Linked DNA regions of Homo sapiens. The protein of the gene in region 1 purifies or fractionates together with the protein of each later gene. This does not show direct contact. Each region holds a gene or a part of one and is shown in the gene's direction. Other genes may lie near its edges.

The links.
Region 2: the proteins of FUCA1 (region 1) and PDIA5 purify together in Homo sapiens (affinity purification with mass spectrometry; 2 studies listed by BioGRID and IntAct, with this or other methods). This does not show direct contact.
Region 3: the proteins of FUCA1 (region 1) and CHCHD5 purify together in Homo sapiens (affinity purification with mass spectrometry; 2 studies listed by BioGRID and IntAct, with this or other methods). This does not show direct contact.
Region 4: the proteins of FUCA1 (region 1) and SUMF1 purify together in Homo sapiens (affinity purification with mass spectrometry; 2 studies listed by BioGRID and IntAct, with this or other methods). This does not show direct contact.

The regions. Positions count from the first base shown.
Region 1 is NC_000001.11:23,844,570-23,851,313, reverse strand, and holds the end of FUCA1 (tissue alpha-L-fucosidase precursor), read left to right. Parts: intron 1-2,474; coding exon 2,475-2,665; intron 2,666-5,140; coding exon 5,141-5,240; intron 5,241-5,458; coding exon 5,459-5,599; 3' UTR 5,600-6,237; downstream 6,238-6,744. UniProt on the Homo sapiens protein: Alpha-L-fucosidase is responsible for hydrolyzing the alpha-1,6-linked fucose joined to the reducing-end N-acetylglucosamine of the carbohydrate moieties of glycoproteins.
Region 2 is NC_000003.12:123,063,009-123,070,038, forward strand, and holds the start of PDIA5 (protein disulfide-isomerase A5 precursor), read left to right. Parts: upstream 1-4,016; 5' UTR 4,017-4,156; coding exon 4,157-4,198; intron 4,199-7,030.
Region 3 is NC_000002.12:112,579,934-112,587,628, forward strand, and holds the start of CHCHD5 (coiled-coil-helix-coiled-coil-helix domain-containing protein 5), read left to right. Parts: upstream 1-4,675; 5' UTR 4,676-4,714; coding exon 4,715-4,716; exon of another isoform or gene 4,717-4,720; intron 4,721-4,737; exon of another isoform or gene 4,738-4,882; intron 4,883-4,920; exon of another isoform or gene 4,921-4,985; intron 4,986-5,203; exon of another isoform or gene 5,204-5,339; intron 5,340-6,040; coding exon 6,041-6,181; exon of another isoform or gene 6,182-6,191; intron 6,192-6,266; coding exon 6,267-6,432; coding exon of another isoform or gene 6,433-6,600; exon of another isoform or gene 6,601-7,695.
Region 4 is NC_000003.12:4,360,639-4,366,292, reverse strand, and holds the end of SUMF1 (formylglycine-generating enzyme isoform 1 precursor), read left to right. Parts: intron 1-4,038; coding exon 4,039-4,149; 3' UTR 4,150-5,147; downstream 5,148-5,654.

The DNA.
Region 1 (6,744 bases):
CGGTCTGCTGCAACCGCCGTCTCCCGGGTTCAAGCAATTCTCCTGCCTCAGCCTCCCGAATAGCTGGGAATACAGGCACGTGCCACCATGCCCAGCTTATTTTTGTGTTTTTAGTAGAGACAGGGTTTCTTCATGTTGGCCAGGCTTGTCTCGAACTCCTGGTAACCATAAAAATGTTGACAAATTTAATATGGGTTAATGTTTAGAGCACTGAATGAAAAAACAGTTACATATTGGCTGGGCACAGTGGCTCATACCTGTAATGCCAACACTTTAGGAGGCCAAGGTGGGAGGATCCTTTGAGGCCAGGAGTTCAAGACCAGCCTGGCCAAAATAGAAAGACCCCATCTCTATTATTATTATTATTTTTAATAAAGTTACATATTGGCTGGGCATGGTGGTGGCTCACACTTGTAACTCCAACACTTTGGGAGACCAAGACAAGAGGATTGCTTGAGGGCAGGAGTTTAAGACCAGCCTAAACAACATAGTGAGACCCCATCTCTATTTTAAAAAATAAAAATAAGTGGCCAGGCACGGTGGCTGACACCTGTAATCCCAGCACTTTGGGAGGCCAAGGAGGGTGGATCACAAAGTCAGGAATTCGAGACCATCCTGGCCAATGTGGTGAAACCCCGTCTCTACTAAAAAATACAAAAAAAATTAGCTGGGCGTGGTGGCACATGCCTATAATCCCAGCTACTCAGGAGGCTGAGGCAGGAGAATTGCTTGAACCCAGGAGGCAGAGGTTGCAGTGAGCTGAGATTGCGCCACTGCACTCCAGCCTGGGTGACAGAGCTAGACTCCGTCTGAAACAAAAATTTTTTTTAAATAATAATAAATAAATAAAATAAGTTACATATTATTACAACTATATAAAATTAACTACATAGGAAAAAGACTAGAAGAAGACATCAAAAGTTAATGGTGTGGTGTCACTTGGAGTACTGTAATGAATTCTTATAATGAATTCTTTAATTCTTTTTTTTTTTTTTTTGAGATGGAATTTCGCTCTTGTTGCCCAGGCTGGAGTGCAATGGCACGATCTCAGCTTGCTGCAACCTCCACCTCCCGGGTTCAAGTGATTCTCTTGCCTCAGCCTCCCGCATAGCTGGGACTACAGGTGCCTACCACTGTGCCCAGCTAATTTTTGTATTTTTAGTAGAGACAGGGCCTTCACCACGTTGGCCAGGCTGGTCTCAAACTCCTGACCTCAGGTAATCCACCTGTCCTGGCTTCCCAAAGTGCTGGGATTACAGGTGTGATCCACCATGCCTGTCTGAATTCTTCAAATTCTGTAATGAATTTAAAATTTTCTCTATATAACCTTAGTTTTTCTGAGCTGCCTGGATATGTATAATACCTGTTCAAGGTCACAGTAAAAACACACACACCCAAATCCCACTCCAGAAGTCTTAAAGAATGTATCTCTTGGCTGAGCACGGTGGCTCACACCTGTAATACCAGCACTTTGGGAGGCTGAGATAGGTGGATCACAAAGTCAGGAGTTCAAGACCAGCCTGGCCAACATAGTGAAACCCCATCTCTACTAAAAATACAAAAATTAACTGGGCATGGTGGTGCGCACCTGTAGTCCCAGCTACTCGGGAGCCTGAGGCAGGAGAATCACTTGAACCCAGGAGGCGGAGGTTGCAGTGAGCCGAGATTGTGCCACTGCACTCCAGCCTGGGAGACAGAGCAAGAGTCCGTCTCAAAAAAAAAAAAAAAAAAAAAAAAAGAACGTATCTCTTTATAGCAGTTTTCCCAAAGGGGCAGCATGTTCATTTATATAGCCCAATGCGTAAGGAATGTCCTGAAATTCTCAGCTTCCCTGCCCACACCTCATGTTTCTGGGGCATGACCCTTCCCACTGCACTCAGCACCATGAGAAGTACAGTGTCACAGGAAGTGCTCCATGGCCACTCCCTGAAATTCAAGTTAATATAATATAGCCTGATTTTTCATTTACTCACATGAGCCTAACCTGCTTTTATAGTGACAAAAATATATATAGAGAGAGAATTTTTAGCTCAGGTGCGGTGACTCATGCTTGTGATCCCAGCACTTCGGGAGGCCAAGGCAGGCAGATCACCTGAGGTCAGGAGTTTTGAGACTGGCCTGGCCAACGTGGTGAAACCCTGTCTCTACTAAAAATAGAATGATATTAGCTGGATGTGGTGGCGCATGCCTGTAATTCCAGCTACTCAGGAGACTGAGGCAGGAGAATCGCTTGAACAGGGAGGTGGAGGTTGCAGTGAGCCGAGATGCAGTTGAGCCAAGATCACGCCATTGCACTCTAGCCTGGGCGACAAGAGTGAAACTCCAGCTCAAAAAGAAAAAAAAAAAAATTAAAACAGCAGAGGATATTTAAAAAACAGAGTGTGCCCTAGATTCTTTTTCTTCTCTGTCTATTTTAAGCATGATGCCAGGCTTGGCATTCATAGCTAGACTTTCATTGTTTCTGTTCTCTCCAGGAACTGGTTCAGACAGTAAGTTTGGGAGGCAACTATCTTCTGAACATTGGACCAACTAAAGATGGACTGATTGTTCCCATCTTCCAAGAAAGGCTTCTTGCTGTTGGGAAATGGCTGAGCATCAATGGGGAGGCTATCTATGCCTCCAAACCATGGCGGGTGCAATGGGAAAAGAACACAACATCTGTATGGTGAGTCTTGTCTTCTGTTGTGTGTAAGAACAGAACAGTGCCCCATCCGGAACTGGTATCTCCTTGGGTCCACAATGTCACAAGCCAGGCTGGAAGTTGCCTTGAGAAAATCCAGAAGGTTATTTTCCTATAAAATTTGTACCCCATTTGAGTTATGTCTCAGGCTACTTGGTTATCTTTGACTAGTGAAGGGAGAGAGTGGGTTTGGTGAAAAGGGAAGGAGCAACAAAGCATCAGTCAATTTATTGAGATTATTACCCTGCCCCCTAAAAATAGTAATAATGAATGCTTGGATTGTACGGAGCCCCATCCAAAATTCTTTCCATTCATACTTGGACTTCTGGATCTAGTTATTTGATCTTGGGCCCCATTTTTTCCACTGCAGAATGGAGTGATGATGCTTTATAGTGTTGTGAGGATTAAATGAGATGAGTGCCAGGCACAAACTCAGTGTTCAATTAAAGGGAACTGCTTTTATTATACCAGAGAGCTTAGGTCTCTGGATCTAATCCCTCTATTAATCCCTCTGTTTTGGATGAGTTTCTGTTTAGTGGTTGTCTTAGTCCATTTTCTGTTGCTATAACTGAATCCCACAGGCTGGATTTTTATTTTATTTTATTATTATTTTTTAGACAGTCTCACTCTGTCACCCAGGTTGGAGTACAGTGGCAGAATCTCAGCTCACTGCAACCTCTGCCTCCAAGGTTCAAGCAATTCTCCTGCCTCAGCCTCCCAAGCAGCTGGGATTATAGGCACCCGCCACCACGCCCAGCTAATTTTTGCATTTTTAGTAGAGATGGGGTTTCACCATGTTGGCCAGGCTGGTCTCAAACTCCTGGCCTCAAGTGATCCACCTGCCTCTGCCTCTCAAAGTGCTGGGATTACAGGCATGAGCCACTGCACCTGGCTTAGACTGGATAATTTTTAAAGAATAGAGGTTTATTTAGCTCACAGTTCTGGAGGCTGGGAAGTTCAAGAGCATAGCACCAGCATCTGGTAAGGGCCTTCCTGCTACATCATGACATGGTTGGGGATGAGAGTGGGCATGTCCACTCAGGTCTTTCTTCCTTTTATAAAGCCATCAGTCCCATCATGGGGCCCTGCCCTGATTACCTTATATGATCCTAATTACTTCCCAAAGGCCTCACCTCTAAATACTATACCATCGACATATGAATTTGGGGATTAAGTTTCCATCATGAGATTTGGGAGATGCATTCAAACCATAGTAGTGATTTTCATCCTCTTCTCTAAACATAGTGAAATTTCAGAACAGGCTGGGTGCAGTCTCAGAAAAAAAAAAAAAGAAATCTCTGAACAACAAATTTGTTTTCATTGCATGTCTTGTCCTTGTTATAGTCTCTGCTATTTTCACATGGATTTGGAATAGAAAAGAGATTTGAATAATAAGGTAAATGGCTCTATTTATTTGCAGTAACTGATGTAGGAGATAATTTTTAAAGACAACTTAACCCAATTGGTAGGGAAAATAGATAGTATCACCAGATAGAGTTTTATAGACTGCCTCCTTCCTGCACACCTTCATTGGTATTGAGTTATTGGTGCTCCCTAGTAACAGTGACAGACTCGAGGACTGGGATTTGGTAGATAATTGAAAGGGGAATGAGTGGCCTTGTGCAGTGCTTCATGCCTGTAATCCCAGCACTTTCTAAGGCCAAGGTGGGAGGATCACTTGAGCCCAGCACAACACAGCAAGTTGTGTTGGGCAACACAGCAAGACTCCATCACTTAAAAAAAAAGAAATTAGGCCCAAAACAGTGACTCACGCCTGTAATCCGAACACTTTGGGAGGCCGAGGCGGGTGGATCACCTGAGGTCAGGAGTTCAAGACCAGTCTGGCCAACATGGCGAAACCCCGTCTTTACTAAAAATACAAAAATTAGCAGGGTATGGTGGCAGGCACCTGTAATCCCAGTTACTCAGGAGCCTGAGGCAGGAGAATTGCTTGAACCTGGGAAGTGGAGGTTGTAGTGAGCCAAGATCACGCCACTGCACTCCATCCTGGACAACAAGAGCCTGGACAACAAGGCTTCGTCTCAAAAAAAAAATAAATAAGGAGCTGAGTGCAATGGCTCATACTTGTAATCCCAGCACTTTGGGAGGCCAATGCAGGTGGATCACTTGAGGCCAGGAGTTCAAGACCAGCCTGGTCAACATAGCAAAATGCCATCTCTACTAAAAATACAAAAGTTAGCCAGGCGTGGTGGTGCACACCTGTAATCCAGTGACTCAGGAGGCTGAACCACAAGAATTGCTTGAACCCAGGAGGCGGAGGTTACAGTGAGCCAACATCACACCATTGCACTCCAGCCTGGGCAACAGAGGGAGACTCTGTCTCAAAAAAAAAAAAAAGAAAAGAAAAGAAAATTAACATTAAAAAGGAGGAAATGTATAAAGTTGTATATCAGGATAACAAGTCAGGTATCTTTGACAGTGTTGTTTCTGTTTTCCCAGGTATACCTCAAAGGGATCGGCTGTTTATGCCATTTTTCTGCACTGGCCAGAAAATGGAGTCTTAAACCTTGAATCCCCCATAACTACCTCAACTACAAAGGTAAAGAGGCTTAGTCAGTCTTAAGATGTAACTTTCTGTAAAGGAATTGGCAGATCCTTCCTTTCTTCCTTCCCTGCCAGGTTTCTCCCATATTCACACCTCTTTTAGACTGGCTTTCCTGCCCTGGCCCAGCGTGGCTGTTTCCTACCATAGTCAGCCTGTATTCTATACTCATTAGTGCATTACCAGTTTGTTTCATTCCCTTTTGTTTTCTGCAGATAACAATGCTGGGAATTCAAGGAGATCTGAAGTGGTCCACAGATCCAGATAAAGGTCTCTTCATCTCTCTACCCCAGTTGCCACCCTCTGCTGTCCCCGCAGAGTTTGCTTGGACTATAAAGCTGACAGGAGTGAAGTAATCATTTGAGTGCAAGAAGAAAGAGGCGCTGCTCACTGTTTTCCTGCTTCAGTTTTTCTCTTATAGTACCATCACTATAATCAACGAACTTCTCTTCTCCACCCAGAGATGGCTTTTCCAACACATTTTAATTAAAGGAACTGAGTACATTACCCTGATGTCTAAATGGACCAAAGATCTGAGATCCATTGTGATTATATCTGTATCAGGTCAGCAGAAGAAGGAACTGAGCAGTTGAACTCTGAGTTCATCAATTGTAATATTTGGAAATTATCTACAATGGAATCTTCCCTCTGTTCTCTGATAACCTACTTGCTTACTCAATGCCTTTAAGCCAAGTCACCCTGTTGCCTATGGGAGGAGGTGGAAGGATTTGGCAAGCTCAACCACATGCTATTTAGTTAGCATCAGTTGTCACCAACAGTCTTTCTGCAAAGGGCAGGAGAGCTTTGGGGGAAAGGAAAAGGCTTACCAGGCTGCTATGGTCAACTCTTCAGAAATTTTCAGAGCAATCTAAAAGCGCCAAAATTCGCTATGTTTACAGTGATACTATTAAGAAAATGAATGTGATTCTGCTCTGTCTTTTTAAGTATGATCAAATAAAAAATTTGTACATCACAATCATTTCTACCAAAAAAACATGGTATAGCTTTCTTTTCCTAGTTTCAACTTATACTGCTTATAGCTTTAAGATCAGTTTCTGGTTTGTGTGTGTTTTTTTTTTAAGGAGATTTGCAAAATCTCCTTAACACTGAACAAAAAATGTAATTCCTGTGTTTTTTCTGCTTCTCACTTCTAATACCATTCTTCTGAATTGACTACCAGTTCAGCCTCTTTGTTAGAGATCTAATCAAGTTTTCTATTTAATTTTTCCTTAATAGATATGTTTAGAAATCTTGTTTTGTTTTGTTTTGAGGCAGAGTCTTGCTCTGTTGCCCAGGCTGGAGTACAGTGGTGTGATCTCGGCTCACTGCAACCTTCACCTCCCAGGTTCAAGTGATCCTTCCTCCTCAGCCTCCCAAGTAGCTGGGACTATAGGCACACCACGATGCCCAGCTAATTTTTTTTTTTTTTTTTTTTTTGTAGAGACGGGGTTTCACCATGTTGCCCAGGCTAGTCTCGAACTCCTGGGCTCAAGTGATCCAC
Region 2 (7,030 bases), on another chromosome or scaffold:
GGGCATGGTAGCTCATATCTGTAATCCCAGCACTTTGGGAGGCCAAGGCAGGCAGATCAGTTGAGCCCAGGAGTTCAAGACCAGCCTGGGCAACATAGCAAAACCCCGTCTCTACTAAAAATACACAATTAGCCCGGTGTGGTGGTGTGAGCCTGAGGTCCCAGCTACTCGGACGGCTGAGGTGGAAGGATGACTTGAGTCTAGGAGATGGAGGTTACAGTGAGTGAGATTGCATCACTGCACTCCAGCCTGGGTGGCAGAGTGAGCCTGTCTCAAAACAGAGAAACAAAAAAGCAAGATGCAGAGCATTTCCAGTACCTGGAAGGTTTGCTCATGCTTTCCCCACAGTCCGTCTCTATTCCTCATCCACTTGTTTTCTTTTATCGAACAGGCAGATTGTACTTGCCTGTTCTTGAACTTCAGATAAATGGAATCATACAGTACATATTATTTTGTGTCTGGCTACTTTTGCTCAACATCAGGGTTTTGAGATTCATCCACGTTGTTGCATATTATCAGGAGTTTGTTCTCTCTCTCTCTCTCTCTGTCTCTCTTTTTTGCAGAATATGCTATCGCTAATTTATCTACTCTCCTGTTCTGACAGTTGGGTTGTTTCCAGTTTGGGCTACTGTATCAGTTTGTTAGGGCTGCCGTAACAGACCACCATAGGCTGGGTGGCTTAAATGACAGAGGTTGTTTTTTATTATTATTATTATTCTGAAAGCTAGAAATCCACGATCAAGCTTTTGGCAGGGTTGATTTCTTCTGAGGGCCTCTCTCCTTGGCGTGTCACTGGCCATTCTGTCTTCTCTCTGTGTCCTCACATGGTCTTTCCTCTGTATATGTGTCCTACTGTCCTCTTTTTGTAAGGATACCAGCCATATGGGATTAGGGTCCACCACAATGACCTCATTTAACCTTAATTACCTCTTCAAAGGCTCTAAGTACGGTCATATTCTGATGTAGTAAGGGTTAGTTAGGACTTCAACATATGAATTTGGGGGGGACACAAGTCCATAACAGCTTCTGTGAATAAAGCTGCCATGAACATTTTGGCTCAGATTTTGTACATGTACAGTTGTCCAAAGTAGGTGAGCCAATTTACACTCCCACAGCAATGCGTGAGTGTTCCAGTAGCTCTGCATCCTCACCAACTGCTTCATTTGACAGATGAGAAACAGAGACCCACAGAGAGGGGTGCAAATCTCACTTTCCCATGTGCAGGTCATAAGTTCGAGGTTGCAGAGCAGAGCATGCCAAGGAAGCCCTGTCCCCAAACTGCTTTAGGAATTTCTGACACTTCCCAACACATTACTTAGCTCAATCATTCAGTCATTCATCAAAAAGAACAGTGAGAACCATCTGTGGCTCCGTCCTGTGCTAGGTCCTGGAAGCAAGGTGATGAACAGAGGGACAGGAAACTGACATTCAGGTTGGAGCAAGAGACAATGAACACAAGGACTCAGTAAGTCTTGTGGGTTTTGGTAGGTGCTGGGCAAAGAAGCAACAGAACCTAAGCAGAAGTTGAGATAGAGAAAAAGGAGCTTGGCAGTGGGGAGGGTAAACTCACCTGTAGATGGGCTGCTCTGAAGGGCATCTCTGAGAGGGGATAGATAGGAGAACCCTGAAGGATACAAAGGCGCCAGCCAGACAAAGGCCAAGGAAATTGCCAAGGCAAAGAGAATGGGAGGAGCACAAGCCCTGAGGCAGGAGCAGCTCTGGAGAGGGGAGGGGTGAGGAAATGATGGTCTGTGTAACTGGACCCAGTGGACAGGGGTTGTGGGAGGCAGGAGATGAGGTCTACCGGGCGGGCGAGGGCCTAGACCATGCAGGGCTTGCAGGTCTTGGGAAGAGTTTGGATTTTATTCTAAGGGTAATGGGAAACCACTGGAGGGTTTCAGGGGAGGGGCAAGCAAGATCCAACTGACATTAACATATGGATGGCATGGGGGAGAAGCAGGCACACTCTTTCAGAAACTGTTACCCTTCCCTAGGTGATAGTCACTTAGACTTGGGAGGTGGCAGGAGAGATATATTCTGGAGGTAAAATTGACAGGATGTGGTGAGGGGTTGGATGGGCCTGTTGTGAATAGGAAGCGAGTAATGGATAACTTCTAAGTTTTGAGCTTTGACTCTCCTGACAGAAGGCAAGGACCTTTCAGCTATAACTTACCAACCTCTGACTGTGCTGTTCTCTTGTTCATCTCACTACTGGATATCTTGAGCCTCAGGACATAGTAAGTGTTCAATAAACATTCTTGAATGTATGAACTGACTGCATGCAAGAATGCTTTAGCACAGCAGGGCCCAACCTTTTTGTCACCAGGGACCGGTTTTGTGGAAGACAAGTTTTCCACAGATGGTGGGGGGACAGGGGATGGTTTTGGGATGAAACTGTTCTATCTCGGATCATCAGGCATTAGATTCTCATAAGGCACCCACAACCTAGATTTCTTGAATGTGCAGTTCACAATAGAGTTCACACTCCTATGAGAATCTAATGCCACCACTGATCTGACAGGAGGCAGAGCTCAGGTGGTAATGCTCGCTGGCCCACAGCTTGCCTCCTGGTTCCTAACAGGCCACAGACTGTCCAGAGGCCCAGCGTTTGGGGACCCCTGCTTTAGCACAGGGAATGGGTTCAATAAAGAGTTTTTTTCTTTTGAAAATTTTTACTCAGGTAAAATTCACATAACATCAATTAACCATTTTAAAGTGTACAGTTTAGTGGCATTTAGTACCTTCACAATGTTGTGGAACCATCATCTCCATCTAGTTCCAAAATGTTTTATCACTCCCAAAGGAGTCCCTATACTCATTAAGCAGTCATTCCCCATTCCTTCCTCCCCACCCCCACTACTATGCTTTCTGTCTCTGTGGATTTACCTATTCTAAATATTTCATAAGATGTAATCACATCATATGTGACTTTTTGTGTCTGGCTTCTTTCATTAGCATACATTTCTGAGATTCATTCATTGTAGAATGTATTAGCATTTTATTCTCTCCCCCCCACCTTTTTTTTTTTTTTTTTTTTTGAGACAGGGTCTCACCCTGTGGCCTAGGCTGGGGTGCAGTGGCATGATCTTGGCTCACTGCAGTCTCCATATCCCAGGTTCAAGCAATCCTCCCGCCTTAGCCTCCCAAGTAGTTGGAACTACAGTCCCTTGCCACCACACCAGCTATTTTATTTTATTTTATTTTTATTTTTAGCAGAGATGAGGTCTTGCTATGTTGCCCAGGCTGGTTTCAAACTCCTAGTCTTACACGATTCTGCTGCCTCAGCTTTCCAAAGTGTTGGGATTACAGTCATGAGCTGCCCTGCTGGGCCACTTTATTCCTTTTAATGGCTAAATAACATTCCATTAGATGGATGTATCACACTTTGTTTACCCATTCATCCTTTGACAGACGTTAGAGTTGTTTCTACCTTTTGGTTATTGTAAATAGTGTTGCTGTGAACACTGGTGTACGTGCATTTGTCTGAATACCTGTTTTCAATTCTTTTGGGTATTAGCCTAAGGGTGGAATTGCTGGTCATATAGTAATCTATGTTTAACTTTTTGAGGAACCACCAGATTGTTTTCCAACAGCTCAATAATGTTTTACTGAAGTTAAATAGAATAAGCAGGAGGGAGTCTGGGAGGCAGGGATGAGGGCTTTTCCTGTCCTTCACAGGCAGCCCTGGACTCTGCCATTTACCGGCTGTGTGATCTGGATCAACGTACTTAAATTCCCTGCGCTGCCTCCTAATCCTCAAAGTGGAGAAAATAAAACCTAATTTCTGTGAGCTGCGTGAGATACTGTTTCTGAAGCTCCAGGCACAGAGTAAGCCCCCGCTCATTAATTGCCTTCCCTTACTCCCTGACCTTGCCTTTTCGCACTTCACTCGCTGCCACGTGGCCTCGGAGCCCAGTCCGCACCCGCAGCCCCCAGCTGAGCCAGGCTGCAGACTACAACTCCCAGCGAGCACTTCTTCCCGGCCGCCTCTCCCCAGCTGCTGCGCATGCTTTGGCAGACGTGGCACCGGGAACTCGGAGGCGGGGAGCGGCTGGGAAGTGGCCGTGGTGGTTGGCCGCGGTGGAGCTAGCAGGCGGGCGGGCGGGAGCGGGCGCCGGAGTGGAGAAAGGAGCCAGCGGTGGGCAGCGCTGCTGGGATGGCGCGGGCCGGGCCGGCGTGGCTGCTGCTGGCAATCTGGGTGAGACTGTGGGGCAGGGATCCGGGCCGGGCCAGCACGTGTGTCCCGCGTGCCCTTCTGCGCTCTCTGCTCCAGCCCTCTGCGGAACGTGCGGGGAGCTGCCCCGGGGCACCGGGATGAGGGCGTGCATGCCAGGCAGGCGGGCACTGGGTGCTACGCGGGAGACAGCGGGCGTCCCGGTGCCCTCGCCGCCAAGCGCTCCCGGACGCAGGGGCAGGAGGCAGCTGTGGGGCGCCGGGAGATCCCTGGCAGGGTGCTTACGCCACGGCCACAACTTTGCGGGGATGCAGGTCGGGGCACAGCCGGTCGGGCAGGACGCCGGCGGGCTGCGGGGTGAGCTCCGCTCCAGACTCCGAGCCCTGCACCTGTGTGAGTGCGGGGTGGGATGGGGGTGCTTACTACCTGCACTGCCGGAAACCTTGGTTTAGGGCCACCTTGTTCTTGGCTTCGGCCCCAGGCGTCTGGGAAACTGCGGGCCACCACCTGGGCCTCCGCCCACAGGCCAGGCTCGGTGGGCTGGGTGGGGTCGACGTAGCCCGCCCCGGCGGAGGAGCTGCTCCTACACCCAACTGAGGCGGGCTCGAGCCTCAGCCACTTTCTAGCTGTGTGACGCGGCGGTTCATTTAATGTATCTGAGCTAGTTTCCTCATGCATGATATAGAAAGGCAAAGCTACCCCCATAGGGTGGTTCTGAGAGTCGGATGAGGTCTCAGTGGAGGAAGCTGTGTAAACTGCAAAATCTTACAAAAGTGGAAAAGGAGTGGACTCCAAGAGTAGTTTGCTACACTTGGTGGGGGGGACTCCAGGCATCCCTGAGAGAGGTCGGAATGGGTGTGCCTGCCGGCCCAGGTCTGGGGTTTGGCCTTCGTTTCGCTGTGGGTGTGTGATGAGATATTGTGGCCTCCTTCCCCATCTTTTCCATAACTTATGCGCTCCCTTATTTTAGGACCATCCTGGTCCTTTTCCCCTGAAGTTCCAGGGAACTTCCTGTTCCTGGCACCCTCCCCCCAACCCAGATTTTCCCGTTCTTTTCCATTTGGGTGTGGCAAGGACACTGGGCAAATGGGAGGAGAAAAGTGTGGGTTGAGTTGCTTGAAACACTTCCATCTCCCAATACCCTGGCCTTTTGGATCACCAGTGAGGAGTGGCCTGGTACTCTCTGGTTGGAAGTGGGTGGGGAAAGAAGCCCCCTGTTCTCTTCGGTCTGTGTTCTCCCTCTTGGGGAGAACCAGGCTGGAGTGGGGCAGTGTCACTTAATTGCGTCTGGGTTTGTTGAATGCTGGTTTGCCATCAGTTCCCTGGAGCCAGTTGGTCTGGGCGGGTCTCTGGGCCAGGAGGAGGGAGCTATCTCCTGAAACGCCCCCCATCGGTCTTTGCACTTGGGCTGAGTAGGAGGTCCTGCTTTCCTCCCTTTCCCCTCCCTTTTGTGAAAACAAACGGCTTGAGAATCTGAAATTTCATTCGGCAGACATTTATTTGTCAATCACATTGTTTGGATTGATATTTTGCCCTCCACTGGGTTAGATTTTGGGCGGAGAGCAAAACACACATTGTACCTGCCGTCTGGTGTTGCCCTGGATTGGGCAAAGGAGTCAGTCCTGTGAGCAAATAATGACAGAACTGCAAGTGCTGTGACCTTAAGTACTAGTATCCTTCACTGAACCGGAGCCATACGTTGATTTAAAGGGAGGTCAGCCATGGCTTTCCTGAGGTGGTAGGGTTGAACAGAGTCTGAAAGATGTGTGGTAGTTAGCTAGGCAGTGGAGGGCTGCAGGTCCCCTTCACCAGGAGGTGCGGAAGAGCAGGTAGGTTTGCTGAAAGCACTAGAACCTGGGAGTCCTGAGCAAGCAATTTCTATCTTCTCCTTTCCCTAAGCCCTAGAGTTGGCTTAGCGGGTAGGAGGTGGAGGGAGCATGCCAACAGGAGCAGTGGTGAGTGATTGCTGGACAGCGCGTTGGGTCTTTGTAAATTTAAATGCTGTATCTATCTGATAAGTGCTCCCCAGGTTCCTGGAAGCCGGTTGGGTTTCTTTGTTCACTCAATATTTACTGAGGGCTGATATGTGCACAGGACTGGGCTGTGACCTGAAGGGTATAAAGGCATCTGCAGGGATTCGTGTACAGGGATATACACCCACCACATTTTTTACAATAGCAAAATGTGGAAATGGGTTAAATGCTCAATAATAGTGGCATGGTTAAATAATATCTGGCCTTGTCCATATCATGGAAAGTGATATTTATCTTTTTCAGTTTGGCCTGCTATAAGAAATATCCCATAGACTGGTGGTGTAGAACAATTGAAATGTATTTTTCACAGTTCTGCAGACCAAAAGTCCGAAATCAGGGTGCCAGCATGGTTGAATTCTAGTGAGGACCCTCCTCCAGAAGACTCTTGACTTCTCACTGTATTCTCATATGATAGAAAGAAGACTAGACAGTTCTCTTGGGTCCCTTTTTCAAGGGCACTAATCCTATTCATGAGCGATCCACCCTCATGACCTAATTACGTACCAAGGGCCCCACCTCCTAACACCACCACTTTGGGGGTTAGGATTTTAACATATGAATTTTCAGGGGAATGACAGAAATACTCAGTCCTGGCCGGGCACAGTTGCTCACACCTGTAATCCCAGCAGTTTGGGAGGCTGAGGCGGGTGGATCACCTGAGGTCAGGAGTTCGAGACCAGCCTGGCCAACATGGTGAAACCCCGTCTCTACTAAAAATACAAAAATTAGCCAAGCATGGTAGCGGGCGCCTGTAGTCCCAGCTACTCAGAAGGCTGAGGCAGGAGAATCGCTTGAACCCAGGAGGCAGAGGGTGCAGTGGGCT
Region 3 (7,695 bases), on another chromosome or scaffold:
TTGTGTCTAAGAACTCTTCACCTAGCCCAAAGATTTTCTCATATGTTATTTTCTAAAGGTTTTATAGTTTTATGCTTTATATTTAAATCTATGATCCATTTTCCACTTAAGAGTTCATTTTTGTACAAAGTGTAAGGTTTAGATCAAGATTTTTTTTTTTTTTTTTTTTTTTTTTTTTGCCAATAGATATCCAATTGCTCCAGGACTGTTACTTGAAAACGATCCTTTCTCTATTGAATTACTTCTGCACTTCTGTCAAAAATCAGATGGCCATAGGCCGGGTGCACTGGCTCACGCCTGTAATCCCTGCACTTTGAGAAGCTGAAGTGGGATGATTGCTTGAGCCCAGGAGTTTGAGACCAGCCTGGGCAACACAGCCAGACCCCATCTCTACTAAAAAAATTAGCCAGGCATGGTGGTGTGCACCTGTAGTCCCAGCTCCCCAGGAGGCTGAGGTGGGAGTATCGTCTAAGCCTGGGAGTCGAGGCTGCAGTGAGCCGTGATCACGCCACTGCACTCCAGCTGGAGTGACAGGGTTTAAATCAGATGGCCATACTTGTGCGGGGCTAATTTATTTTGTATTATTTCATTTTTATCTCCTTTGTTGGCTTATTAACCCTACCTCCATTTTCATTTTTTGTTGTTTCTCTTAAAATTTCTAGTGTACATCTTTAGACTTGTCACACTTTTATGTAATATTCTACCACTTCACAGGTAGTAGAACAACTTAGCAACAGCACACACTTTCCTGTCTCTTGGCCTTTGTGCTATTTTGTCATAAGAGTTATATTTACTGTATCTGGAGATCTTGATTTCATATGCCAGATTTCCATTTTCCTTCGAACTGAGAGCTTGCTTCAGTGTTTCTGAGCTTACTTAGGTGAGACCAGAGCGGCCATTAGGGCTAATTTTGCCTCACTAGACAGGCAGTATCTTTGAGTAGTTTAGCCAGTGCACAGTGATGGTCTCCACTATGGCTCCGGGGATTGCTCTGCCTGCACCTTCCTGGTAGTTCCCTTGGTTTCCAGGAGTGTGTTCACAGGCATGCTGTGCGCTACACGTGCAGGAAACCCTTTGCAGGTCTGTGCTGCGCTACTCTCTGGTACCCTGCCTTACAAACTAGCTGCCTTGGCCTCTCCAAATTCTCAACTTTGTCCCAACTCAGGGACACCCCTGGGCTATGTAGCCTAGAAACTAACTCTCCAGACATAAGCCGGGCCACTAAGGTCACTTCATTTGTCTCCTTTCTCTTGGGGACCACTGTGCTACAATGCTTGTTTCCAATGTCTGAACTCTGTTGTCTCCTATTTTGTCCAGATTTTTTAGTTGTTGATGTTTGAAGGATAAATCTACTACCTATGACATCACCACACCCGGGTAACTTTTGTACTTTTTGTAGAGACAGAATTTCGCCATGTTGCCCAGGCTGATCTCAAACTCCTGGGCTCAAGCAGTCTGGCCACCTCAGTTTCCCAAAGTGCTGAGATTTATAGGCATGAGCCACTGTACTTGGCCTATGTTTCTAACGCAGAAGCCACCACCGTATGCCACACCTGTGACTCTTTCCCATATTTGTTGTAGTAAAAGGGACTGCAGGCCAGGCGCTGTGGCTCATACCTGTAATCTCAGCACTTTGGGAGGCCGACATGGGCGGATCACGAGGTCAGGACTTTGAGACCAGCCTGGCCAATATGATGGAACCCCGTCTCTACTAAAAATACAAAAATTAGCCTGGCGTGGTGGTGCGCACCTGTAGTCCCAGCTATTTGGGAGGCTGAGGCAGAAGAATCGCTTGAACCCGGGAGGTGGAGGTTGCAGTAAGCCGAGATTGTGCCACTGCATTCCAGCCTGGGTGACAAAGCGAGATGCTGTCTCAAAAAATAAATAAAAATAAATAAATAAATAAAAGAGGCTGCAGTACATGACACACTGGCAGCACCAACTCCTGCCTGGTGGATGACATCTATCTTTAGACATCCCCACTCCAGGGTTGCTGGGGGTCCATCACCATTGTTGACACTTCTTACAGGTTATGATGTTATCATCAGTCCCAGTGCTATCAGTCAACTCTACAATCCTAGGTAGTCGTTGAATCTACAGTTGACCCTTAAACAATGCAGTAGAAAATCCACATATAACTTTTGACTCCCCCAAAACTTAACTATTAATAGCCTACTGTCGATCTGAAGTCTTACTGATGACATAGATGAACACATATTTTGTATGTTATATGCATTATATACTGTATTCTTGCAATAGTAAAGTAGAGAGAAGAAACTGTTATTAAGGAAATCGTAAGGAAGATAAAATATACTATTCATTAAGTGGAAGTGGATCATCATAAAGGCCTTCATCCTTGTCCTTTTCACATTGAGTAGGCTGAGGAGAGGAAGGGGGGTTGGTCTTGCTGTCTCAGAGTGACAGCGGCAGAAGAAAATCTGAGTATAAGTGGACCAGTACAGTTTAAATCCATGTTGTTCAAGGGTGAACTGTAAACTGTTTGATTTAATGGGCAACCCACGCACCCAAGTGGTTATAAGTGGTACTACAAAATGTATTATAAAAATACCGTAGAATTTTTTTTTTTTTTTTGAGACAGAGTCATGCTCTGTCACCCAGGCTGGAGTGCAGTGGTGTGGTCTCGGCTCACTACAACCTCCGCAGCAATTCTCGTGCCTCAACCTCCTGAGTAGCTCCAGGACTACAGGTGCCTGCCACCATCCCTGGCTAATTTTTTGTATTTTTTGTAGAGACACGGTTTCACCATGTTAGCCAGGCTGGTCTCGAACTCCTGACCTCAAGCGATTCGCCCACCTCGACCTCCCAAAGTGCTGGGATTACAGGCGTGAGCCACTGCACCCAGCTGAACACAATCTGTACCTTCCATGTACTGATTTATGTCTTTGTCTGTAACTCCTGTCCACCTAAAATGTACAAAACCAAACTGTAATTCTACTGTCTCAGGCACACTTTCTCAGGACCTCTTGAGCCTGTGTTCCCCAGGCCATGGTCACTCATATTGGCTCAAAATAAATCTCTTTAAAACATTTCAGTTTGGTTTTTCTGTTAACAGGTGGTTAATTTTTCCTAGTTCTTTAATGAGATCCCTAGAAACCGGGTTTAAGACAATTGATTTTTTTTTTTTGCTTTCTCGGTCAGATAATTTCAGAAACTCCCTCCCTGTGCACCTGTGGGCATTCCCACTTCCACACACCAACAAGACAAGGTTAGACAGATCTTCTAAGGCAGCTTCTAAGGCCTTTCAGCATGTCAAAATGCATCTTTGGGGTATCCGTTTCTGAGTACCAACAAGGGAACGGAATGGGTTAAGATTTCATTCTCTCAGTAGAGGAAAATCTAGGGATTCATTCTACATTTGAAGCCAAAAACAGTTATCTGACTCCTTCCAGAGCCTTTAAATGTTGATCCCTTCCCCTCTTCTCCCATCAAACATACACTTGGAAGTTTAAGAAGAATGGAGGGATCTCAAGGTGTAAAGTTTTCTTTCTGTGCGATGACCAGTGCTGGTCCTCGGATGTCAACTGCCAACCAGGGTAGCTCATGGTTACAACCTCCCGTACAGCTCTCACTTATCCAGAACTACTGAGGCTCCAAGCTCAGTATCAAACTGTTCACTTGCACTATGTCCTCTATGATGTCACTGTCATCATCATTTTACAGACACACTGCGACTCCAAGTGGTCGTTACTAGTTCACAATCAAGTAGCTCTCGTTCATCTTCTCGTTCATCTTCAACTCTATGATTAACTGCAAAATGTTCTGCTCATTTTGACTAGAGTCTTGAAAGATCTGCAAACGAAACGGCAGGACTGATGCTCAGTTCTCTGACCAGGGGATATCCAGTCTCTTATGTGGGGAAACTCACGCCCAGGTCTAACCTCACACTTTTAAGACAGATGAGAAGGAAGGGGGAAATGTTGCTACATTAGGAGGAATTAATTACAAAGAGAGGAAGTAACTAGCTTGATAGTCTCATGGAGTCAGGATTAAACGCCATGTCTGTCCTGGCGTACGCTAAGGGATGGGGAAACGTCTGGGTCCCAGGCTGGGTAAATGGCAGGCCCAAGCCGAATTAGTTCGGCTCTTGGTTTGACTCCCTCTTCCCTCCTGTTCCAAGCGCTCGCATGAACCTGGGTGCCAGGGGGATTATCAGCGTCTGCGCAAGGCCGATGGTGGCAGCGCGGCGTTAGGAATCAGGCCCCCTATCCCTGAGCCCAACAGCCTACCGCTACAGCACCCAACGAAAATGGGAACAACATGTTGAGACGCTGCAGCAACAGCAGGCGCTTCCCACCAGCTACAGTCGGAGATTTGGAGCGCTTGTGTCTGAGGCTCAATCCCGTCAGGTGCCGCGCAACTCAGCGGCGCATTCTCTTTGGACCCGAGGCACCACCATACTTTCCATTGCTTACTTCCGTTAAACCCCGAGCGCTGCCATGGCAAGCCGGAAATAGGGATGAAGCAATTTAGCCAGAAGAGGGCGGAAGTGGCTACTCAGGGCGCCGCCATGACGAGCCGGGCCGGAAGAAGAGGTAGGGCGCCGCCGTGACAGATTAGTCCTAAAGGGAACGGGGTTGTTAGTTCAATTGGCTACCGGAAAAAACCAGGCTGGGCTGGGCGCCGCCATGACAACCGATACCGGAAAAGGCGGGTCGTTCCCCCCGGACAGCCCTACGCCGGCAAAGGTCTCGAGATGTGAGTAGTGAGAGCGCCTACCCCATACGTGCTGCCGCTCCCCTTCTTTTACCCAGTGATCTAGACCTAGTCTAGGACCTCGGGAACTAGGACCAGCCTCCCTCCTTCTTGGAGATCTGACCCTCAGGATTCAGCGCCTTCGCTCACGAGCTCCAACCCTCCGCATGCCCAAGCCCCGCCCTCTAAGCGTTTAGGCCTCGCCCCCTCTCGCGCTGCTTAGGACTTCGGTCCAGTCACTCTTCACCCAATCTCTGCCCCCAGTACCCCAGGTCCGGCCTTCACACTGAAATCCTAAGACTACAGACTTATTTAGGGACCTCTATGACTCCTACACCCATCCTCAGAGCTCCAGGTTCCTCCCCCTTGATCACCAAACTTTACCTTTTGAACCTTCCAGATCTGCCTGGGACCCCAGTCCTCACCTATAGGGTCCACAGACTTGTTCCTAGACCACTCTGACCTTGCCCAGGATTCCCAGAGCACCAACCTCATCCAGGGCTTCCAGACTTCACGCCCCTGGGACCTTGAGTCCCGCACCAGGGCCTTAGGTTTCATCTTGAAGACTCTTTGGCTAAGACACTCTTCCCCAGGACCTGAGACCCCACCTCTTGGAGCTCTAAACCTCACTTTTAGAACCCCCAAACCCATTAAGGGCTCTCAAGCTCTCCCTGGAATTCTAGATCTTTCTTCTAAGGCCCCAAGTCTTCTGTGCATGATCCCCAGGCCTACTGGGGGATGCCTGGATTTCAAGGCCTGTCTTCTAGGACCCTGAAGGCCTACCTTACATTAATCAGACTTTGTTTTAGAACCTCCACTCTCTCCCCAGAAGCTCCCCTCCTGCTTTACAAGCCCCAGGGCTGGGCCTCACCTCTCCACTTCTTTGGCACCATCTCAGGATCCTTCAGATTCCCACATCTGCCCTGAACTCCTAGTCCTACTTCAGACCCAGACCAGAACTCCCTTTCTTTGCGGAGCACCATAGCTTATGCCTGTAATCCTAGCACTTTGGGAGGTCTAAGCAGGGGGATCGCTTGAGCCCAGGGGTTCAATACCAGCCTCGGCAACATAGCAAGACCCTGTCTCTACAAAACATAAAAAATTAGCTGGGCATGGTGGCTCATGCCTGTGGTCCCAGCTACTTAGGAGGTTGGGGCAGGAAGATCACTTGAATCCAGGAGTTGGTGGCTACAGTGAGCTATGATCGTGCCACTGCACTCCAGCCTGGGCCACAGTGAGACCCTGTCTCTAAAAAATAAAAAAAAAAAAAAGAATTCCCTTGCTTGCCTACTGCCTGGAATGATCCTCAGCCCATCCTGTCCCACAGGCAGGCGGCCCTAGAGGTCACCGCTCGCTACTGTGGCCGGGAGCTGGAGCAGTATGGCCAGTGTGTGGCGGCCAAGCCGGAATCCTGGCAGCGGGACTGTCACTACCTTAAGATGAGCATTGCCCAGTGCACATCCTCCCAGTGAGTGCGGGCAAGTATGAGACAGTGTGGGGGGTGGGCAGTGGGGTGGGAATCTCCCAGGGGCTGAACTGCCCTACCCCCACAGCCCAATCATCCGCCAGATCCGCCAGGCCTGTGCTCAGCCTTTTGAGGCCTTCGAGGAGTGTCTTCGACAGAACGAGGCAGCTGTGGGCAACTGTGCAGAGCATATGCGCCGCTTCCTGCAGTGCGCTGAGCAGGTGCAGCCGCCACGCTCACCTGCAACTGTGGAGGTAAGAGGGGCTCACCTCAGTTCATCTCTTTTCTCCATAACATCCCCTTCATCCTTCTGGTTGTTCAGGGTAAAGACTTTGGAGTCATCCTCAGCCCCACCCCATCACCACACAGGCCTTTGCCATGCATCCAGAATCCAGAACATCATCACTTCTTGCCCCATATAGCCCCTGCTTTAATCCACCACCACCCTCACCCTCCACCTCCAGGATACCTGCCCCAGCCTTCTCCCTGGTCTCCCTTCCTCCCTCTTTTCTTGCCTCCATAAAGCGGCCTGGGTGAGCATGTAAGGACTGAAATCTGGTCTCATCACACCTATGCTTAAAGCTCTCCAGTGGCTTTGTGTCACATTGAGAACAAAAGTCCAGGTCCTTGCTGGGTTCTCTGTGTTCTTCCCTAGGCTGACTTCATCTGCCTCCTGCCTCACCCTCTCTCTTCTTTCTCACTACTCCTCATCTGCAACTGCAGAGGGGCTGGGCTGGGGTGGCCAAAAAAAGGTCACTCTTTTAAATGTATCTAATATGTAAACCAGATATACAGTATATCTGTGATATGTAAGTTTCATGGTTGGGCAATTAGAACAAAAGTCTAAAATGACTCCTTGAGGAGAGGCAGTAACGGAAAAAGGTTGAAAAATGCTCTTTTAGATGTTTACTACCCTCCTCACTGGACTGTGAGCTCCAAAGGTGAAAGTCACATCTTTCCCCAGCCCCTGTGAGTACCCTCTCCTGGGGCCCTCTCTCTGCCCCTGCAGCCCTGGCTTCTCTCTTGGGCCACCTGGCCATCCTTCTCCTGGGCCCCATGCTCCATCTTGACTTTCCAGTCATTCTTGGTGATCATCCTAGACTGATCTCAGAGGAAATCTGACCATGTTCTGCTTCTACTTACAAACCTTTCCATGGTTCTCAATTCCACCAGCCCAAGTCTTAATGCCAGCACAGCCCACAGGGCCCTGTGGGATGCAGTCCCTGCGACCCGTGGTCCCACCTCTCCTCTCTTTCCCCCTTAAGCTCTATGTTCCAGCCCCAGTGAACATGCAGTTACTCAAGTGCACGTCTCCGCTGCTTTTGTCCAGCTGTTTCCCTCTGCTGGGACTGCCCTTCCTAATCCATCTCCTGGCTAATTCCTATTCCAGCTTAGACGGCACGTCTCTCAGAAAACCTCCCTGATGTCCCACCCACTTCCCGCCCCTGTCTTCAAGTTCCCAAGGTCCCTGAGCCCCTCCATCAAGGCTCACATCCTATGCCTGTGTCAAGGGAGCT
Region 4 (5,654 bases), on another chromosome or scaffold:
CCAGGAGAACTTCCCCAATCTAACAAGGCAGGCCAACATTCAGATTCAGGAAATACAGAGAACACCACAAAGATACTCCTCGAGAAGAGCAACTCCAAGACACATAATTATCAGATTCACCAAAGTTGAAATGAAGGAAAAAATGCTAAGGGCAGCCAGAGAGAAAGGTCGGGTTACCCACGAAGGGAAGCCCATCAGACTAACAGCGGATCTCTCGGCAGAAACTCTACAAGCCAGAAGAGAGTGGGGGCCAATATTCAACATTCTTAAAGAAAAGAATTTTCAACCCAGAATTTCATATCCAGCCAAACTAAGCTTCATAAGTGAAGGAGAAATAAGATACTTTACAGACAAGCAAATGCTGAGAGATTTTGTTGCTACCAGGCCTGCCCTAAAAGAGCTCCTGAAGGAAACACTAAATATGGAAAGGAACAACCGGTACCAGCCACTGCAAAATCATGCCAAATTGTAAAGACCATCGAGACTAGGAAGAAACTGCATCAACTAACGAGCAAAATCACCAGCTAACATCATAATGACAGGATCAAATTCACACATAACAATATTAACTTTAAATGTAAATGGACTAAATGCTCCAATTAAAAGACACAGACTGGCAAATTGGATAAAGAGTCAAGACCCATCAGTGTGCTGTATTCAGGAAACCCATCTCACGTGCAGAGACACACATAGGCTCAAAATAAAAGGATGGAGGAAGATCTACCAAGCAAACGGAAAACAAAAAAAGGCAGGGGTTGCAATCCTAGTCTCTGATAAAACAGACTTTAAACCAACAAAGATCAAAAGAGACAAAGAAGGCCATTACATAATGATAAAGGGATCAATTCAACAACAAGAGCTAACTATCCTAAATATATATGCACCCAATACAGAAGCACCCAGATTCATAAAGCAAATCCTGAGTGACCTACAAAGAGACTTAGACTCCCACACAATAATAATGGGAGACTTTAACACCCCACTGTCAACATTAGACAGATCAACGAGACAGAAAGTTAACAAGGATATCCAGGAATTGAACTCAGCTCTGCACCAAGCAGACCTAATAGACATCTACAGAACTCTCCACCCCAAATCAACAGAATATACATTTTTTTCAGCACCACACCACACCTATTCCAAAATTGACCACATAGTTGGAAGTAAAGCTCTCCTCAGCAAATGTAAAAGAACAGAAATTATAACAAACTGTCTCTCAGACCACAGTGCAATCAAACTAGAACTCAGGATTAAGAAACTCACTCAAAACCGCTCAACTACATGGAAACTGAACAAAAATGACTACTGGGTACATAATGAAATGAAGGCAGAAATAAAGATGTTCTTTGAAACCAACAAGAACAAAGACACAACATACCAGAATCTCTGGGACACATTCAAAGCAGTGTGTAGAGGGAAATTTATAGCACTAAATGCCCACAAGAGAAAGCAGGAAAGATCCAAAATTGATACCCTAACATCACAATTAAAAGAACCAGAAAAGCAAGAGCAAACACATTCAAAAGCTAGCAGAAGGCAAGAAATAACTAAAATCAGAGCAGAACTGAAGGAAATAGAGACACAAAAAACCCTTCAAAAAATTAATGAATCCAGGAGCTGGTTTTTTGAAAGGATCAACAAAATTGATAGACCGCTAGCAAGACTAATAAAGAAGAAAAGAGAGAAGAATCAAATAGACCCAATAAAAAATGATAAAGGGGATATCACCACCGATCCCACAGAAATACAAACTACCATCAGAGAATACTACAAACACCTCTACACAAATAAACTAGAAAATCTAGAAGAAATGGATAAATTCCTCGACACATACACTCTCCCAAGACTAAACCAGGAAGAAGTTGAATCTCTGAATAGACCAATAACAGGCTCTGAAATTGTGGCAATAATCAATAGCTTACCAACCAAAAAGAGTCCAGGACCAGATGGATTCACAGCCGAATTCTACCACAGGTACAAGGAGGAACTGGTACCATTCCTTCTGAAACTATTCCAATCAATAGAAAAAGAGGGAATCCTCCCTAACTCATTTGATGAGGCCAGCATCATCCTGATACCAAAGCCGGGCAGAGACTCAACCAAGAAAGAGAATTTTAGACCAATATCCTTGATGAACATTGATGCAAAAATCCTCAATAAAATACTGGCAAACCGAATCCAGCAGCACATCAAAAAGCTTATCCACCATGATCAAGTGGGCTTCATCCCTGGGATGCAAGTCTGGTTCAATATACGCAAATGAATAAATGTAATCCAGCATATAAACAGAACCAAAGACAAAAACCACATGATTATCTCAATAGATGCAGAAAAGGCCTTTGACACAATTCAACAACCCTTCATGCTAAAAACTCTCAATAAATTAGGTATTGATGGGATGTATCTCAAAATAATAAGAGCTATCTATGACAGACCCACAGCCAATATCACACTGAATGGGCAAAAACTGGAAGCATTCCCTTTGAAAACTGGCACAAGACAGGGATGCCCTCTCTCACCACTCCTATTCAACATAGTGTTGGAAGTTCTGGCCAGGGCGATTAGGCAGGAGAAGGAAATAAAGGGTATTCAATTAGGAAAAGAGGAAGTCAAATTGTCCCTGTTTGCAGATGACATGATTGTATATCTAGAAAACCCCATTGTGTCAGCCCAAAGTCTCCTTAAGCTGATAAGCAACTTCAGCAACGTCTCAGGATACGAAATCAATGTACAAAAATCACAAGCAATCTTATACACCAATAACAGACAAACAGAGAGCCAAATCATGAGTGAACTCCCATTCACAATTACTTCAAAGAGAATAAAATACCTAGGAATCCACCTTACAAGGGACGTGAAGGACCTCTTCAAGGAGAACTACAAACCACTGCTCAATGAAATAAAAGAGGATACAAAGAAATGGAAGAGCAATGTATTTTTAAAAAGCAATGTTGTCCCACAGCCTTTCCTATGTTTGATGTTCCTAGACTTGTTGTTTAATTTTTTGCCGATCTACTGGCATTAAATGATATCATAAATATGATTTAGATAATAAATAATATCATAAATATTATTTAGGTATTAAATGGTGTCTTAGTGTTGTTCTTAGTATTTTTTCAGTGGCCATCTATCACTTATTACTTGGTTTAATTTCAAAAATTAATATATATTCTTATTGTATTGGAATACTGAATAGGTTTCATATAGGAAACATGAAACTCAGATTGCTTGAGGGATAACTACTGTGCACATTGTGGTGCATTCGGAATCTTCCAGTCTTTTCTTCTTGGCACATGTAGTTATCTACACTGTGGTCATACCACATATACACCTTTATATTCTGCCTTTTTCATTTTAACTGTTTTTTTTTCTTTTTTTGGACACAAGATCTTGCTCTGTCACCCAGGCTTTAGTACAGTGGCTCAGTGATGGTGTACTGCAGCCTCAAACACCCAGGCTCAAGAGATCTTCCCACTTCAACCTCTAGAGTAGCTGTGACTACAAGTGCACACCACCATGCTCAGCTAATTTTTTGTAGAGATGGGATCTTGCTGTGTTGCCCAGGCTGGCCTCGAGCTCCTGGCCTCAAACAGTTCTCCCATTTCAGCCTCCCAAAATGTTGGGATTACAGGTGTGAGCCAGTGCGCCTGGCCTCATTTAACATTTTATCATGAAAACTTCCTGTGTCATTAAATACTATGTAAAGACATGACTTTCAATGGCTGCTTACTTTTCTATTATATGGATGTGCCTAAACTTAGGCAATCATTGGTTGTTACATTTTTCTTTTTTGCTGTTATATCTAATGCTGAACATCTTTGTACTATATCCGTGTTACATTTATAAGGTGAAGGACGTTGGAAAATATGTGGTTAGTTCTTGAATGTGCTGCCCTTTTTAAAGCATACATGTTAAGTATCCATACAGGCAGGGTTGTGGGGAAGCACTGTCTACAGCCGGTGCAATATGCATCTGATGGGTTAGAGCCTTCAGCTGAGAGTCCCAGTAGCACTTACCTTGCTCTTTCTCTCTACACAGTCTTATTGTTACAGGTATCGCTGTGCTGCTCGGAGCCAGAACACACCTGATAGCTCTGCTTCGAATCTGGGATTCCGCTGTGCAGCCGACCGCCTGCCCACTATGGACTGACAACCAAGGAAAGTCTTCCCCAGTCCAAGGAGCAGTCGTGTCTGACCTACATTGGGCTTTTCTCAGAACTTTGAACGATCCCATGCAAAGAATTCCCACCCTGAGGTGGGTTACATACCTGCCCAATGGCCAAAGGAACCGCCTTGTGAGACCAAATTGCTGACCTGGGTCAGTGCATGTGCTTTATGGTGTGGTGCATCTTTGGAGATCATCACCATATTTTACTTTTGAGAGTCTTTAAAGAGGAAGGGGAGTGGAGGGAACCCTGAGCTAGGCTTCAGGAGGCCCGCGTCCTACGCAGGCTCTGCCACAGGGGTTAGACCCCAGGTCCGACGCTTGACCTTCCTGGGCCTCAAGTGCCCTCCCCTATCAAATGAAGGGATGGACAGCATGACCTCTGGGTGTCTCTCCAACTCACCAGTTCTAAAAAGGGTATCAGATTCTATTGTGACTTCATAGTGAGAATTTATTATAGATTATTTTTTAGCTATTTTTTCCATGTGTGAACCTTGAGTGATACTAATCATGTAAAGTAAGAGTTCTCTTATGTATTATTTTCGGAAGAGGGGTGTGGTGACTCCTTTATATTCGTACTGCACTTTGTTTTTCCAAGGAAATCAGTGTCTTTTACGTTGTTATGATGAATCCCACATGGGGCCGGTGATGGTATGCTGAAGTTCAGCCGTTGAACACATAGGAATGTCTGTGGGGTGACTCTACTGTGCTTTATCTTTTAACATTAAGTGCCTTTGGTTCAGAGGGGCAGTCATAAGCTCTGTTTCCCCCTCTCCCCAAAGCCTTCAGCGAACGTGAAATGTGCGCTAAACGGGGAAACCTGTTTAATTCTAGATATAGGGAAAAAGGAACGAGGACCTTGAATGAGCTATATTCAGGGTATCCGGTATTTTGTAATAGGGAATAGGAAACCTTGTTGGCTGTGGAATATCCGATGCTTTGAATCATGCACTGTGTTGAATAAACGTATCTGCTAAATCAGGCTTCACCGTCATCAGCTTCTTTTCTCTTTCTCTTCTTTATGTTTTCTTTTAAAGAGAGGACTTTGTGATATGCGTGTTTTATTTGCTAGAAAACGTTCATGTTTGTTAGCTAATGGATAACTTTGATATGTGGGTAATTTGTGGGAATTTTTGTTCCAAAAAGCAAGGCTATTCCACCAGTAACCCTATCATGACCTTGCTGCTTGTTGCCACAGTAGATAATGCCAAGTCAAAGGCACTGCCTCACTTGTGGTCTTGTAAAACCCAGCATTTGCTTCCCATGCCGGGAAAGCACCTTGTTTTAGAACAATAGCTTTCAACCTAAGGTCCCTGTTATCAAGTTCCCATCCTGATTCCTCAGTCCTGAGAACCCCTAAGCCATTTCTTGCATGCCATTTGAAAGAAATGTTTAAATCAAATAATATTCAAAAGTGTCTAACCAACACTTGAATGCTACTTTTGTGCTTAGCCTCTTAACATGTTAAAACAATTCCCTTGAAAAGCAGT